2 separate regions of the Homo sapiens genome follow, and region 2 is linked to region 1. A link means that fine-mapping ties the variant in region 1 to the expression of a gene that starts in the linked region. Tissue or cell type: whole blood. Region 1 holds a variant in brackets; the other region holds the start of a gene. All regions are shown on one strand. Distances are from middle to middle.

Region 1 (8,000 bases):
ATAGGTAAAATCATAATGCTCATATGGGTTACTATGATCTCTTTCTACCCACAGAACACTCTGGCAGCACATGTGTGGATATTTTCCTCATACCAACAACCAATTCTCCAACTTTCCAAACACCATCTGGGTGCCCTACAATTTAAATCAATACTGACACTACCTACCTGGAGTTAACATCAGATCCCACAAGTTAATAGCTTAGTGCCACAAGACTGTCCCACTTAAGATGCCAATTATAAGTCCTGGGCCTCTCATGTTTCTCACAGGAGGCTGTAAATCAGGGGTTCCCATGACCCCCTCCTCAACCTCAGCTATTTACTAAAATTGCTCACAAAACTCAAGGAAACACTTTACTTATGTTTACTGGTTTATTATAAGGATATTCTAAAGGATACAGCTAAACTGTTGGATTAAGAGATACATAAAGCAAGGTACAGTTTGTGTGAACATAGTTTTCACTGTTGGGAGGTCCCAAGCCCAGAAGCTTCTGTCTCATGAAGTTGGATTATGTCACCCTCCCAACACGTGGTTGCATTCACCAACCTGAAAATTCGCTGAACCTCATTGTTTAGGGACTTTCATGGAGGTTTCATCATGTGGGCATAATGGATTTTATTAACTCAGTCTCCAGCCTCTGTCCCCTTCCTGGAGGCTGGGAAGATGGGACTGAACATTCTAGGCTTTTAATCAAGGTTTGATCTTTCTAGCAACCAGCCCCATCCTGAAGCCATCTAGCATCCCACCAAGAGTTACCTTGTTAAAACCACAGAAACTTCAATCGCTCGTGAAATTCCAAGGGATTCAGGAGCTCTGTGGTCAGGAACAAAAAATGCTTCATGGTTAAAGAGAAGCCCAAATCATCTTTTGCCCTGATAGCAAATTCCATTTAAAGGCAGTAACGCTTGACCAGGCACTAAAATTTGGAATTCGGAATGATTCTACGCAGAAATCTAGCATGTTGCCACGAAGCCTGGGGCAGCAGGGGGTGTGTGTGTGTGGTGGTGGGGGTTGTGGGGAGGTTGGCTAAAGCCCAGCTTCTCACAGTGTGGTTCTCACCCTTGAAACTTCAGTTTACCTCTGGAGCTTATTAAAAATGCAAATCCTCACAAACTGACCTTTTAGATTAAAAATCTCTGTGTATGGGGTCTGGGAATCTGTGTTTTTAAGGCTTCCAGGTGATTATTAGGCAAGCAAAAGCTTGAGAAAGCCCTGCTGTTTTTCTCAGGCCACTCTGCCTTCTTTCAGCATCTTCTGGTTGTCATGTGGGTGCCTCTATCTTGTGGGTGCTACAGTTACTTCTTCAGTAGTACACCTGCAACTTTATCAGTATATTAAATGATACTTTGTAATCATTTTATATTGCCTCCAACTGGATTCCTGGATTCTCACAGGCATTATCACCAATGGCATTTAGGAACCTGACTCATATGTCTTTAGCATTATACGGACTCTAGCATAGAATTTGGTAGGTAACGTGTAGAAAAAAATCTGGAAGGATACATGCCAAACCACTGGCAGTGGTTACCTCTGGGGAGACTTCCAGGATTATAGAGAAGTAAAGGGAGGGGCTCTAACTTTTACTCTCTACTTTTTTTTTTTTTTTTTTTTTTTTTTTTTTTTTTTTTTGGAGACAGGGTTTCCCTCTGTGGCCCAGGCTGAAGTGCAGTAGCTACAATCTCGGTTCACTGCAGCCGCCTCCTCCTGGGCTCAAGCAATCCTCCTGCCTCAGCCTCCCAAGTAGCCAGGACTACAGGCATGTGCCACCATGCCAGACTTTTTCTGTAATTTTTGTAGAGACAGGGTTTCACCATGTTACCTGGGCTCAAACTTCTGGGCTCAAGCAATCCGTCTGCCTCAGCCTCCCAAAGTGCTGGGATTATAGGCAGGAGCCATCACGCCTGGCCTACTCCCTACCTTCGTGTATTTGACTTTTATGCACAGAAAATTATCTGTCTCATTATTTTTATAGAAGAATTTTGATAGAGAATTCTGATGTGTCTCATTTTTATGTAGTTTTGCTAAAAGTAGTAGACGGTATTGTAATATCCATTATCCACACTTGGAGAACTTCTACCTATATTTATTTATTGAGAGTTGCATCTATTTTAAGACATCATCTGCCTTTTTCTTCTCATCTTAGTAGTGAGCTACATTTTTAGAAATAATGCTCAGGCCGGGTGTGGTGGGTCACGCCTGTAATCCCAGCGCTTCGGGAGGCCGAGGCAGGCTGATCACAAGTTCAGGAGTTTGAGACCAGCCTGGCCAACTTGGTGAAACCCCATCTCTACTAAAAATACAAAAAATTAGCCAGGCATGGTGGCAGGTGCCTATAACCCCAGCTACTTGGGAGGCTGAAGCAGGAGAATCACTTGAACCCAGGAGGTGGAGGTTGCAGTGAGTTGAAACTGCATCACTGCACTCCAGCCTGGGCAACAGAGCAATATTCCATCTCAAAAAAAAAAAAAAAAAAAAATAGAAAGCTCAAATGAACAGTCTTAATGTAAAAGATGATGTTGTGTTGACATTTATTGCCTATGTTGTGTTTAATACTAAAATATGTATTTGAATGTTTTGTTTTACTTATTGATGAGGTTCTTTTAATTTTGAACATAATGGACCTTCATTTGGGTCAGTGTCATCTTTATTTTTTGAAACAGCGAACACACTTTTAACCACTGATTTATTATTTTAATAGTGTACCCTCAAATCCTGAAAAATTTAAAAATGCAGTTTATAAAAGAATTATTCTTTGCACAATTACTGGCAAACTTATTGTTAATAAACTACTGTAAGGTGATGCATTAAAAAATCTGGATCAGTATGTTACAGCCACCGTGTTGTGACTTTGGTACTAATTTCTCTGGTACAAGTCCTTTTGAGTTCCAAATGCCTGTGAACCAATTCCCCAATGCCTGTTCTTTCTACTCCCACAATATCTTTGTTCACACAGTGCACCATGATATTATTCGGTCTTCATTAAGCACCAGTGCAATTGTGTAAACACAAACACCAATGCAAGCCCCCAAAACATGTTCCGTGGTGAGGTGGCCATTCAGATGTTGTAGACTCAGCACTGCTGTCCAATAGAACTTTCTGTGATGATAGAAATATGCTATTCCTGCGCTTTTGCTTTTCAGTGAGATAGCCATTAGGCATAGGGAGCTTTTGAGCCCTTGAAATGTGGCAAAGGTGACTGAGGTTCTGAATGTTTGTGTACATAATTTTTTTGTGGTTGCTGTTTATAGGAGACAGGGTCTCACTGTGTCGGCCAGGCTGGCCTTGAACTCCTGAGCTCAAGCAATCCTCCTGCTTCGGCCTCCCATAGTGCTAGGATTACAGGCGTGAGCCATCGTGTCCCACCCGTACATAATTTTAACTAATTTAAATAACCACATTTAACAAGTGTCTACCATATCGGACAGCACAGATCTAGAGCAGTGTTTTTCAGACTCTAATGTGCATGTGAATCTTCTGAGGATCTTGTTAAAATGCAGACTGGAATTCAGTACATCTGGTCTGAATCTGTGATTCTGCATTTTTTTTTTTTTAAGACAGAGTTTTGCTCTTGTTACCCAGGCTGGAGTGCAATGATGGGATCTTGGCTCACGGCAAACTCCACCTCCCGGGTTCAAGTGATTCTCCTGCCTCAGCCTCGCGAGTAGCTGGGATTACAGGCATGTGCCACCATACCTGGCTAATTTTGTATTTTTAGTGGAGACAGGGTTTCTCCATGTTGGTCAGGCTGGTCGCGAACTCCTGACCTCAGGTGATTCGCCCACCTTGGCCTCCCAAAGTCCTGGAATTACATGCGTGAGCCACCATGCCCGGCCCGATTCTGCATTTTTAATTAGCCCCAAGATGCTCCTGGTCTGGGGACCACATATTGAGAAGCATGTCTCTAGACTAGATATACTTATGTCCATTTGTTTTAGATTATTACCTGAAAGGAAATACTGAAAGTAAAAATTCTCACAGAACTCTAGGATTTTCAGGGGGCCTCATACCCCAATTTAGGGATCCCGTCCTGGTGTGCTACTGCTACAGCATACATAGTAGCAGGCAAGCATATAGCCAGGAAGGTTCAGTGAGCTTGCCAAGGGCTCACCCTGGGATGCATGACAAGTTGAGTTTTTCATTATGCTTTTCATATAGTATTAAAAA[G/T]AATCTTATGGTAAAATAAAGACACTTATTTCATCTTTCCCACTCTTTTTTTAAAAAAACAAATTAATTTTTCCTTCTTGTAGGTTTTGCGTGTGAAGCTGTGTGGAAATGTGAAATACTACCAGTCACACCATTATAGTACCGTGGTGCCACCTGATGGTAAGCTTTCTTACCATTTATTTGATTCATATGTTAATTGTTTCCCTTTCTTCCAAATAAAGAGCTGCGAGAGTTTTGAGCAGAATAGACTTTTCTTACACTATCCCCATCCCACCCCACCCTGATTGGGTTCACTTCCACCTTTTTGTGCTCCCATAATATAGCTGCTGTCTTTTGTCAAATTCCCACCTCAGAATCAGAGGAGTCAGAGATGATAAGCAATAGTCGGGTGGGTGTGGTGGCCTGTAATCCCAGCACTTTGGGAAGCCACGGCAGGCGGATCACTTCAGCTCAGGAGTTTGGGACCAACCTGGCCAACAAAGCAAAACCCCATCTCTACAAAAAATACAAAAATTAGCCAGGTGTGATGGCACATGCCTGTAGTCCCAGCTACCCAAGAGATTGAGGTGGGAAGATTGCTTGAGCCCAGGAGGTAGAGGCTGCAGTGAGCCATGATCGTGCCACTCCAGTTTGGGCAACAGAGTGAGACCCTGTCTCAAAAAGAAAGAAAAAAAAACAAATAGTTTCTGTCCTCAAGAAAACTAGAACTTAAGTGTTTACCTGAGAAGACTTTTTTTCTTTTTCATTTAATCAGGGTCTAGCTGTGTCACTCAGGCTGGAGTGCAGTGGCACGATCTCGGCTCACTGCAACTTCTGCTTCCCAGGCTGAAGCCATCGTCCCAGCTCAGCCTCTTAAGTAGCTGCAACTACAGGCGCACACCACCATGCCAGACTTAATTTTCGTATATTTTGTAGAGATGGGGTTTCGCCATGTTGCCCAGAGAGCTCTCAAACTTCTGCGCTCAGGCAGTCCACCAATCTGAGCCTCCCAAAGTGCTGGGATTACAGGCATGAGCCACCATGCCGGCCACCTGGGAAGACTTTAAGCAGATAATAAAGTGTGGTATGTGCTACACTAAAATGTTATAGAATGGTAGGGAATATGTAAACTGTAGTATAATGAAGGCATTATTGGAGCAATACAAATTTTTATAAGACTTCAGAGGTTTGTGAATTTCATGTTTGAGCATTCCTTCTAGAATTCTTGTATTTATGGTTTTTTTTAAAGTAAAATTTACTCATTTTTTTTTCTTTTTTTCCTTAACAGAAATAACAGTTATTTATAGACATGGCCTTCCCTTGGTAACACTTACCTTGCCATCTAGAAAAGAACGTTGTCAATTCGTAGTCAAACCAATGTTGTCAACAGTTGGTTCATTCCTTCAGGACCTACAAAATGAAGATAAGGGTATCAAAACTGCAGCCATCTTCACAGCAGGTATATATGTATATAATTTTACAACTTTGTCCCAGGGTTTCTGTCTCTCCTGAACTTTTGTTTGGTTCTTTACTTTTCTAGAAGTACATTGTTTAATTCATTAGATAATAAATGGTTGGTCTTTATTCTTTCATTTTTATGCATCAACACTATTTTAAAAACTGTTTTGGCCTGGCGTGGTGGCTCACACCTGTAATCCCAGCACTTTTGGGAGGCCGAGTCAGGCGGATCACCTGAGGTCAGGAGTTCGAGACCAGCCCGACCAACATGGAGAAACCCCGTCTCTACTAAAAACACAAAATTAGCCACCCGTGGTGGTACATACCTGTAATCCCAGCTACTTGGGAGGCTGAGGCAGGAGAATTGCTTGAACCCAGGAGGCAGAGGTTGCAGTGAGCCGAGATCACGCCATTGCACTCCAGTCTGGGCAACAGGAGTGAAACTCCATCCCAAGAAAAGAAAATTAAAAAAAAAAAAAATTTAACTTCATTGAATGAAAAATTAATGGAATAAATTTAATGTAAATTTCAGTTACTTATTTTATAAACTTAGCCTTAAAGGTTTTTCATGAGAAAATCTTAGTGGCACAGGCATTAGCGTGCAATTCTCAGCAAAATTTGAATAATTAGAAAACAAAATGCAGTTTTAATTATTAAAATAAGCCAGTGAATAATTAAAGTACACAAAAAATTTGTTCACCACTGTTATAAAGCAATTACAGTCTAGTATGTTTTTTGGCAGAATTAGTTCTTAGGAAGAATATACATTTTTTAAAAAACCAGAAGTATGTCATCACTTAGACATTTAAAATTTAGAATACAGCTTTCATGTTCTCATAGTCTGAAATGGTCTTAGACCAACTGCTTCTAAATAGAATAAAGAATTATTTACCCTATCCCACTACATAGCAGCTGCAAATATAGATAAATTAATAAATTTGCATTATTTCATTATGATATTAAATACTTAGAATAAAGTTATTTAGGTTCATGATTACTGTTGCAGTTTTGAAAGGGAAATAAACAGACTTTTTCCCTATCCAAGTTCCAAATTAATTAAAAGATAGAGAAGTTGGAAAATGGAGATTAATTGATTCATTCAACAAATATTTATTGAGCACCTAATGTATGTCAGGCACTGTTCTATACGCTAGAGGTAGTGCAGAGAACAAAAGGGATAAAAACTCCTGCCCTTATGGAGCTTATATTTAGGAGGAGAAAAAAACAAGATAAATTATGTATTATGTTAAATAATAAGTGTTACGAAGAAAAATAAAGCAGAGTGTGGAAGATGTGTGTGGGCAGGGGTGGGCTTGATAAGATTACATTTGCACAAAGACCTGGGGGAAATGAGGGAGGGAGTCACGTAGAGGGAAGAGAGCTCTGGGCCGCATGCGGTGGCTCACACCTGTAATCCCAGCACTTTGGGAGGCCGAGGTGGGTGGATCACCTGAGGTCAGGGGTTTGAAACCAGCCTGGCCAACATAGCAAAACCCCTTCTCTACTAATAATACAAAAATTAGCCAGGTGTAGTGTTGCATACCTGTAATCCCAGCTACTCAGGAGGCTGAAGCAGGAGAATCGCTTGAACATGGGAGGCGGAGGTTGCTGTGGTCCGAGATGGCACCACTGCACTCCAGCCTGAGTGATAGAGTGAGACTGCATTGAGGTGGGAGCCTACTACACAGTGACCGCAAAGGAGGGAGCTGGGAGAAAGGAGGAGTTCTGAGAGGTGGGGAAGGGCAGATCAGGAAAGGCTTATTGTAGGTTGTTGTTAGGACTATAGATTTAGCTGGAAGGGACGTTTCTTCCTGCTAAAACCTGGATCAGAGAATAAGGTTTTAGCCCTATGGCACAATGGGCTTCCTAATATTTCATCCTTGAACTAGACAGACATTTCCCCCAGGCACAGGAACACTGGAATGTCCATGGGCGTTTTCCACAGGGGCAGGGCCCTCTTTCTAAGCTTCTAGGGGCAGGCAGACCCAAACCTGGAAGTCAGAAGGGCCTGCACTGAGCAGCACTTGCCTGGTGGTGTGTACTCAATTAGTATTGAAGTGAATGAAATAAGAGAGGTTAAAATGATAGATGTTTATCCTGCTTATTTCTAAAAATAAAGTTAGTAGCTTTGAAACAGAAAGCACAAAGAAAGAGAATAGAAGTCTTAGAGAAAAGGGACTCTTTGGACTGAGTGCAAACACCCTATCGGGGGTTTAAATTGATACCCAAGAATACATGAAAAATTTAACACTGTATCACTAGTGCTTAAAAATGTTTCACGTCAGTCTTTTGCTATTCATACCTTTGTATAAAGGATAATATAGTATTTCAACTGAGAAATCATATTCAGTGTATGTCTTTTTTAGTAAGATTTTAAGGAGCTGGTTTGAAGTCATTTA
Region 2 (8,131 bases), 98 kb before region 1:
AAGAAGTTGGGGTGTGGTGGGGATGGATAGAACACTTAACAACATGAGATCAGTCAGGGGAATCTCCTCACTTCTGTGTAGCAGACGAGGAACCCAAGAGCCCCCAAATGAGGCTCTCTGGTTTGTTTTTTTTTTTGAGATGGAGTCTTGCTCTGTCGCCCAGGCTGGAGTGTAGTGGCACAACCTCGGCTCACTGCAACCTCTGCCTCCCCGGGGTCAAGCAATTCTCCTCCCTTAGCCTCCCGAGTAGCCAGGACTACAGGCACGTTCCACCACGCCCGGCTAATTTTTGTATTCTTAGTAGAGACAGGGTTTCACCAATGTTGGCCAGGCTGGTCTTGAACTCCTGATCTTGTGATCCGCCCGTCTTGGCCTCCCAAAGTGCTGGGATTACAGGCATGAGCCACCACGCCTGGCTGGCTCTCTGGTTTAATAAAAATTGTGTAAAGAATCTTATTGAAAGGTGACAATGTGCTGGCGGCCCTCGCTGGCTCTCAGCGCCTCCTTGGCCTCAGAGTCCGCTCTGGCCATGCTTGAGGAGCCCTTCAGCCCGCTGCTGCACTGTGGGAGCCCCTCTCCAGGCTTGCGGAAGCTGGTACCAGCTCCCTCTGCTTGCAGGGAGGTTGAGGGAGAGACGCGGGTGGGAACCGGGGCTGCATGTGGCCTTGCGGGACAGCGCGAGTTCCGGGTGGGCGTGGGCTCCGTGGCCCCGCACTCGGAGGGCGGCCGGCACCCCCGGCCCGGGCAGTGAAGGGCTTAGCACCTGGGCCAGCAGCTGCAGAGGGGGGCGTCAGGTCCCCCAGCACTGCCAGCCGGCCCGCGCCACGCTCAAATTCTCACCAGGCCTCAGCCACCTCCCCATGGGGCAGGGCTCGGATCTGCAGCCCGCCATGTGCAAGTCCCCCCGCGGTGGGCTTCTGCTAGGCCCTAGCCTCCCTGAGGGGCACCGCCCCTGCCTCAGCGGCGTCCAGTCCCATTGACTGCCCAAGGGCTGCTGAGTGCAGGCACGAGGCACGAGCGCAGGACTGGCAAGCAGCTCAGCCCGCAACCCTGGCATGGCATCCACTAGGGGAAGCCAACTGGGCTCCTGAGAGGGGTGGGGACTTGGAGAACTTTTATGTCTAGTTAGAGGATTGTAAATGCACCAATCAGCACTCTGTCTAGCTAAAGGTTTGTAAATGCACCAATCAGTGCTCTGTGTCTAGCTCAGGGTTCGTGGATGCACCAATCAGCACTCTGTATCTAGCTAATCTCCTGGGGACTTGGAGAACCTTTATGTCTAGCTAAAGGATTGTAAACACACCAATCAGCACCCTGTGTCTAGCTCAAGGTTTGTAAATGCACCAATCAGTGCTCCGTGTCTAGCTAATCTAGTGGGGACTTGGGGAACCTTTATATCCAGTTAAAGGATTGTAAATACACCAATCAGCACTCTGTATCTAGCTCAGGGATTGTAGACACATCAATCAGCACCCTGTCAAAACGGACCAATCAGCGCTCTGTAAAATGGACCAATCAGCAGGATGTGGGTGGGGCCAGATGGGGGAATAAAAGCAGGCTGCCAGAGCCAGCAGTGGCAACCTGTCTGGGTCCCGTGCCACGCTCTAGAAGCTTTGTTCTTTTGTTGTTTGCAATAAATCTTGCTGCTGCTCACTCTTTGGGTCTGCACTGCCTTTATGATCTGTAACACTCACCGTGAAGGTTTGCAGCTTCATTTCTGAGGCCAGTGAGACCCGAACCCACTGGGAGGAATGAACAACTCCGGACGCGCCACCTTAAGAGCTGTAACACTCACTGCCAAGGTCTGCAGCTTCACTCCTGAAGCCAGCGAAACCACTGAACCCACCAGGAGGAAGAAACTCCAAACATGTCCGAACATCAGAAAGAACAAACTCCGGACACGCTACCTTTAAGAACTGTAACACTCACCACCAGGGTCCGCGGCTTCATTCTTGAAGTCAGTGAGACCAAGAACCCACCAATTCAGGACACATTATCAAGATTCTTCACAAATGTTAATAGGGATTTTTATCAGTTTTAGTTGTAGTTTCCAATTTCTAAAAATGTTCAGGTAATTTTTTTACACCTTTCAGAACCTAGCTCATGAGTGTTGAATCAATGCTTTTTCATGTCAATTCTTTGTATAGGCATTCTTTTCAGTTGTATTAAACAAGAACCCTTCACAACAAAAAAACAAAAATACACGCTTCTTTCACTTGGAGCACTAGCTAATAGGAGGAAAAGATTCAGGTAAGGTAATTTACCTTCCCATATGAACTTAAAGTTTCATGTGTCACTCTCCATCTGGGGCAACTGTATTTTGAAAGACATGCTAGTTAACACAGGTGAATCAGCCTTTAATAGTGATAAAGTTTTTACTATAGTAGAAACTTGTGATTCTTTCCCTTTTCAATAAGGAAAGGAGATTACCGCCAGGAGTGATTTGCCACTTATTGCAGGTTTGCCAATTTTGATTCATTAACTGAACCCTCTTGCAGATTCAGGAGATAAAAATGCGGAGTGCCCAGTTAAATTTGAATTCAGATAAACACCAAATAATTTAGTATATCCCAGATATTTCATTTTTAAAATAATAAATGTGACCCATGCAATATTTGGGACATACTTCACTATTTGTATCTAAAATTCAAGTTTAACTGGGCATCCTATATTTTATCTAACAACCCTACTGTAATTGGTTTAGGTTGCTCTTTAATGCCTTTGGTTTGCTTTCAAAAATAAGTAGTCTCAAAACAAAGCATCCGATTTCCCAGTAGTTAGAAGAACTCAATACCGGTTCCGAAGCTTCTTCAATTAAAAACGTGCTTCAAAAGAGAAGCCAATTCTGTGGGAGATACTTTCCCAAAAAACTCGGGTTTGGGCCCCTATACCGTGAACTACAAACCTCCGCAGGGGTAGGCCCGGGCTGCCCGCCTCACACCGCACTCGCCAGCGAGCAGGGGCCCGGCACCGCAGCCCGGGGCAGAGGCCTTGGAGGTTGTGGAGGTGGGAGAGGCCTCGGCCGACCCGCTTCAATCCGTCTTCTCCAAGCTCGGTGGGGAAAACAAACTTCCTGAGCGGCCCTGCCCCCTCCAGATGCCGGACGCTGTTTTCGTCTCATCCCCGTCTGGGTTGGATGGCGAAGACGGCGCTCAGAGCACGCAGCACCGGGAATTAACAGCGAGTTTTGAAATCTAGAGCTCGCAAGGTGTGCGTCGCCTGCTGCTGTTCATTCCAGAGGGTCTTCTGCTGGAGAAGGAGGGGGCCCTCGACCTCGGGCTCCCGCTCTCGGGCTCCCGCTCTCTCGCTCTCTTTTTTTTTTTTTTTTTTGGTCGGAGGAAAGAAAACAGCCCTGCGCCCGGATGCGTAGAGAGCCGACAAGTGGAAACAGGGACACACCCTCCCGTGAGCCCGCCCAAGCTGGAGCCGCGGCGCGCTGAGCGAGCAGGCGGGGCGGGAGCGCCCACAGCTCGGAGCCACCAGGCGCTGACGAGGAGCCCGGCTGAGGGAGGATGCGCCGCTGACGCCTGCGGGAGCCGCGCGCCTGGGGCGGGAGGATGCTCCAGAGGGGCCTCTGGCCGTGGCGCACGCGGCTGCTGCCGACCCCTGGCACCTGGCGCCCAGCGCGCCCGTGGCCGCTGCCGCCTCCGCCCCAGGTAAGAGCGGGTGCCGGGCTGTGGGGGTTCGGGGTAGGCTGGTGCAAAGTTTGCGTTGGACAACTTTGGCGGGAGCAAAAGCCGAGCGGCCGAGCAGTCAACTGCGTTTTGCTGGCTGCCGGGCTCCGCGCGCCGGGCGGTCCCGACAGGTGGTGGCCGGGCGGCCGACGTGGGTCACGGAGGCCTGGGCTGAGGTCAAGACTCCGGGCCCGGGGAAGGTGAAGCCAGAGCGCTGCGGCTGGGGGTGCCTCACCCGGGCCGAGATAGGGTGCGGGGACCACCAGACTTCGGCCTGGGAGCAGCAGAATAACCTGGGAGGCAGTTTCTGGGCTGCAGCTCTCGGTCAGGAGCAAGTTTCCAAAGCCGCTGCGCCGCGGGGCCGGTTCCCTCTTGGTGATCAGTGCCCGAGCCCCTAAGGAGCCCGGAAACGATGAACGGGGCAGTGACCGTCCCGGGTGTGGACGGTCGCAGGAGAGTGAAATTTCCATCCTGAAATCTGCGAGCACCTCCCTTTCCCAGAAGGAAGAAAAACTCGCGTTTTGTTCAGACACCCGAGAGACGGGTGAATCATGAGTGTGCTGGTGAGTAACAGTTGGCCTGACACCGTTGTATTGTGGTCTGTGGAGAACCGTGGCTTGGAGGAGTAGAGAGTGGATGTGCACCAAAAAAGACTAGAAGAAGGGGAAAGCGCTGAGTTTAAGGAGGATTGCGATGGAGCCTGACAGGAGCCCGGGAGTGCAAACTCTGACCCAGATGAGGAAAGACAGCCAAAGCCTTCAGGGTGTGTGTGGTTGGGGAGGGAGCTGTTTCTGAGTTTTCGTTTGTTCCTCCCCCACACTGTTAAGATTACTTTCAGATTGTTAAAGGCTTAAAAGCCAAAAAGTAAGCAGTGTGATTCTCTTGTCACTTTCACTTCCTGTTTATTTTGTTCTTTTTTTTCCTTCCCCCCCTTTTCCTCCAGCTGTCTGAGGGCTTCAGTTTCAATTGATGCAGGGAATATTTAAGTGCATTTTTTTTTCCTTTTCATTGAGCTTGTGACCAAAGGATTAAGTGCATTCAGAAAATCAATTCCAGGAATGTTTGAAAGAGAATGAGGAAGGCCATGTTGTTACTAAATGTAAGAACAGGGGCAAACTCCTTAAAATGTAAAATGGTAGACTTATAAAGTCATTGGGGAGATGGGCTTTTTATACTTTTAAAGGTTGTACTTTTACTGTAAGTGTTGCATTGTGTAGTCAAAGAGATACCAAACATTAAAACAACCCAATACGAGGAACCCCTTTCACATGCCATTTTAAACACAGATTATTGTTTTTTGTTGTTGTTTTTGGAGACGGAGTCTTGCTCTGTTACCCAGGCTGGAGTGCAGTTGTGCGATCTCGGCTCACTGCAACTTCCGCCTCCTGGGTTCAAGCGATTCTCCTACCTCAGCCTCCCCAGAAAATAGGATGACCGGCGCGCGCCACCGCACCCGGCTAATTTTTGTATTTTTAGTAGAGACGGGGTTTCACCATGTTGGCCAGACTGGCTGGTCTCGAACTCCTGACGTTGTGATCCGCCCGTCTCAGCCCCGCAAAGTGCTGGGATTACAGGGGTGAGCCACCGCGACCAGCCCCAAGTGTTTTCTATTAAGTCCATTTAACACGTTGAGTAGCATTTTTGTGGATCCCGGGACTGGCTGCCCTTTCTCAAATTATCACCTGCAAATCCTTTTCTCCATATTTCCCATCTGATGCTGTCTAGGGTGGTGCCATTGCATACCTCAGCAGGAATGTGGATACCCTTTTAAAAGAAAATGGTACCATCGGGCTTATTAGGCCTAATAACAGGGAAACAGTAGTTAGGAATCATCGTAAGAAGCGTTATGTTTGAATGTTTCTAATTTGCAAATTTTTGTTTTAAGCCAACTGTCCAGCTATAAAGACAATTTTCAGAACTTGAGAAGTGGAAATGCTGTTCTTTATATACAGCTTTTACATTTTACCATGAGTAAACCGATAAAAATATTCTGGCTCTTGAGGAGTTTTAGCTAGGACTACTAAACCATTTTCTGCTAATCAAATTACCTGGCTATCGGGACATTTTTCATTCTAAGATATCACTCTTTTGTGGCTTTCCCACTTGTTATGAAATATCCTGTGGGTAAAGGCAAGTATTATTTCTATTTATTTTTTTTCCCAGAAACATTCAGACCCCTAGAGCCTATGAAGCAGCTAGAAAAACAAGTAGTTTGTGACCTGACAGCTCATAAAATCTTAGCTTGCAAGGACTTGTCGTAAGCAGTATTTCAAATAAGCGTTCCCAACTATAATTGGTCTTTCTGAAGTCTTTCACACTTCTATGAGTGTGCCTTATAGGAGCATTTAATAACTTTGAAAAATACACAATTCTCATACTTCATATTGTATGTGAGCAATTGTCTGCTAGTGTTTTCTGGGTGAGGGGAAAAAAAAACAGTTTGTTGACATGGATATACAGAATTGTTTTTTAAAGAACACATTTAGTCTGAAGCGTAGTAGAGCAAGAGCATATTGTATTCATCTTTGGGCAAGGCATGGCCTGGTGGCCATAATCACGCTCTGGTGGCAGCATCTCTGCTTGTCAGCACTCTAGCTGAGTGGTTGTCAGGGCAATCCATGGCTCCTGCTGATGTTTCTGTGCACAAAGACTCAGCTTTGAGTAATTGTGGTGCTTGGTGAGTTACATCTGAACAGAAAGCCCTTGCCTAAATGTGCCTTTCTTAATTTGGATTTTGTGCTACTTAGACTGAGAAACTCCCTGATACGATTTCATGTCCCCAGTACAGCATTTGAGTCCATACATAAGCTATGTTTAAAAAATTTTTACATCAAGCACTCTGCAGAGCAGCTTAAGTATCGAGTATGCTTTTTTTAACTTCTAGAAACAAAGCATATGGATGTTTAAATTCCACCACAAGATGTCAACTTAGAAATTGTTTTCATCTTTTTAATTTAATGAACATATCGTTCTTGTTTGACATGTTCCTACTATTCTATCTCTTGTATTTGCAGTTGGTACATTGTATTCTATTCTATAAAACTAACTTCAGAGCCCTCTCCTGAGGAGAGCAATTGGTTAAGTGTTGGTGATTGTATTTACGCTATGGAAAAGACATTGATGCTTTGATCTCAAAGTAATGCTAGACCAGCTTGTCAATTAAATATTAAACATTACCACTTTTGCAGCACTTAAGTATTAGTGTGTTTTTTTTAGATTTTGCTTGTTATTGTGATTAAATGGTATTAGTGCTGTTTTACAGCAAATTCTAAGCTAGGAAATCATTTGTGTCTTGGCAGAAAGATATTTGTTGAATGAGGTACCTGTGAAACTAAGGTAGAAAACCTCGAGCTAAAACTCCTGACCTCGTGATCCTCCTGCCTCAGCCTCCCAAAGTGCTGGGATTACAGGCGTGAGCCACCGCGCCCAGCCCACAGCACTTCTTAAAAAAATAAAAGTAAAGGAAAAAGCCAGACCTAATAATCTACTCAATCTAGTAAATATCATAAGATCCTCAGGAAGAACTCATATTTGTGGGGTGACCCTTGCCAGTCTTCAAGATTTTCCTCTCTAAAGTTTACCACAGCAAAGCTTTGTGAACCTGTCAGTTTCTTGATATGAGATTCAATGTTTTATGTCATTTCTTATTTATTTCTGCTTATAGGCTATATGCATTTCTTTCTTTTCTTTTTTTTTTGAGACGGAGTCTTGCTCTGTCGCCAAGCTGGAGTGCAGTGGCGCAATCTCAGTTCACTGCAACCTCCGCCTCCCGGGTTCAAACGATTCCCCTGCCTCAGCCTCCAAGTAGCTGGGATTACAGGCATGTGCCACCATGGGGGCCAGCTAATTTTTTGTATTTTAGTAGAGACCGGGTTTGGTTTCACCATGTTGGCCAAGATGGTCTCGATCTCCTGACCTCGTGATCTGCCCACCTTGGCCTCCCAAAGTGCTGGGATTACAAGCATGAGACACTGCGCCCGGCTGGCTATATGCATTTCAAGTCTAGCCCCATATCTTGCCTCTCTTTCACTGTTCCCTATTTCTTGCCCTCAAATCTATTCCAAAAAAATTATCTTCAATAGACCTTGTTTATCATGCAGATTTCATAGATGATTTCTCATCAATATTGTGAATCCTGGACTGAAATCTGTTCCCTAAAGAGCTGCCAAAATGCAAACCTGATCTACAATACTTGTAGTGAACCTGTAATTAAGGTAAAAATTATGTAAAATCAACACATCTGGAAGTTTATGACACAGGAAACTCTCAGAACAAATGGTTACAGGGCTTGGTAGTTGATGCAAACTATACTTTAACTCAGGTGGGGATGGGGTAGCAAGGAAATAGGAAGATTTAGAGCAGGTGAGGGCAGCAGGAAGAAAAGAGGAATCCACTTCCATAAGTGAGTGAGGAGAGTAGTAACTTCAGTACTACCATCTTTCTTTGAGAGAGAACTA

What was found. PIP is the estimated chance that this variant, and not a neighbour inherited with it, causes the effect.
Region 2: it holds the start of MCUB, and the variant in region 1 is fine-mapped to the expression of MCUB in whole blood (INTERVAL, PIP 0.90).

The regions. Positions count from the first base shown.
Region 1 is chr4:109,654,764-109,662,763 of GRCh38, forward strand. It overlaps MCUB (mitochondrial calcium uniporter dominant negative subunit beta), which reads left to right. Exons shown (of 8, transcript NM_017918.5): 2 at 4,248-4,323; 3 at 5,432-5,602. Among named protein-coding and RNA genes, the nearest start is that of CASP6, 45 kb to the right of the region's middle. The variant G/T (reference allele first, on the strand shown) is at 4,165.
Region 2 is chr4:109,556,781-109,564,911 of GRCh38, forward strand. MCUB (mitochondrial calcium uniporter dominant negative subunit beta) reads left to right here and starts at 3,466. Exons shown (of 8, transcript NM_017918.5): 1 at 3,466-3,656. The coding sequence starts at 3,558. RefSeq lists a silencer at 3,413-3,732 and an enhancer at 4,153-4,352.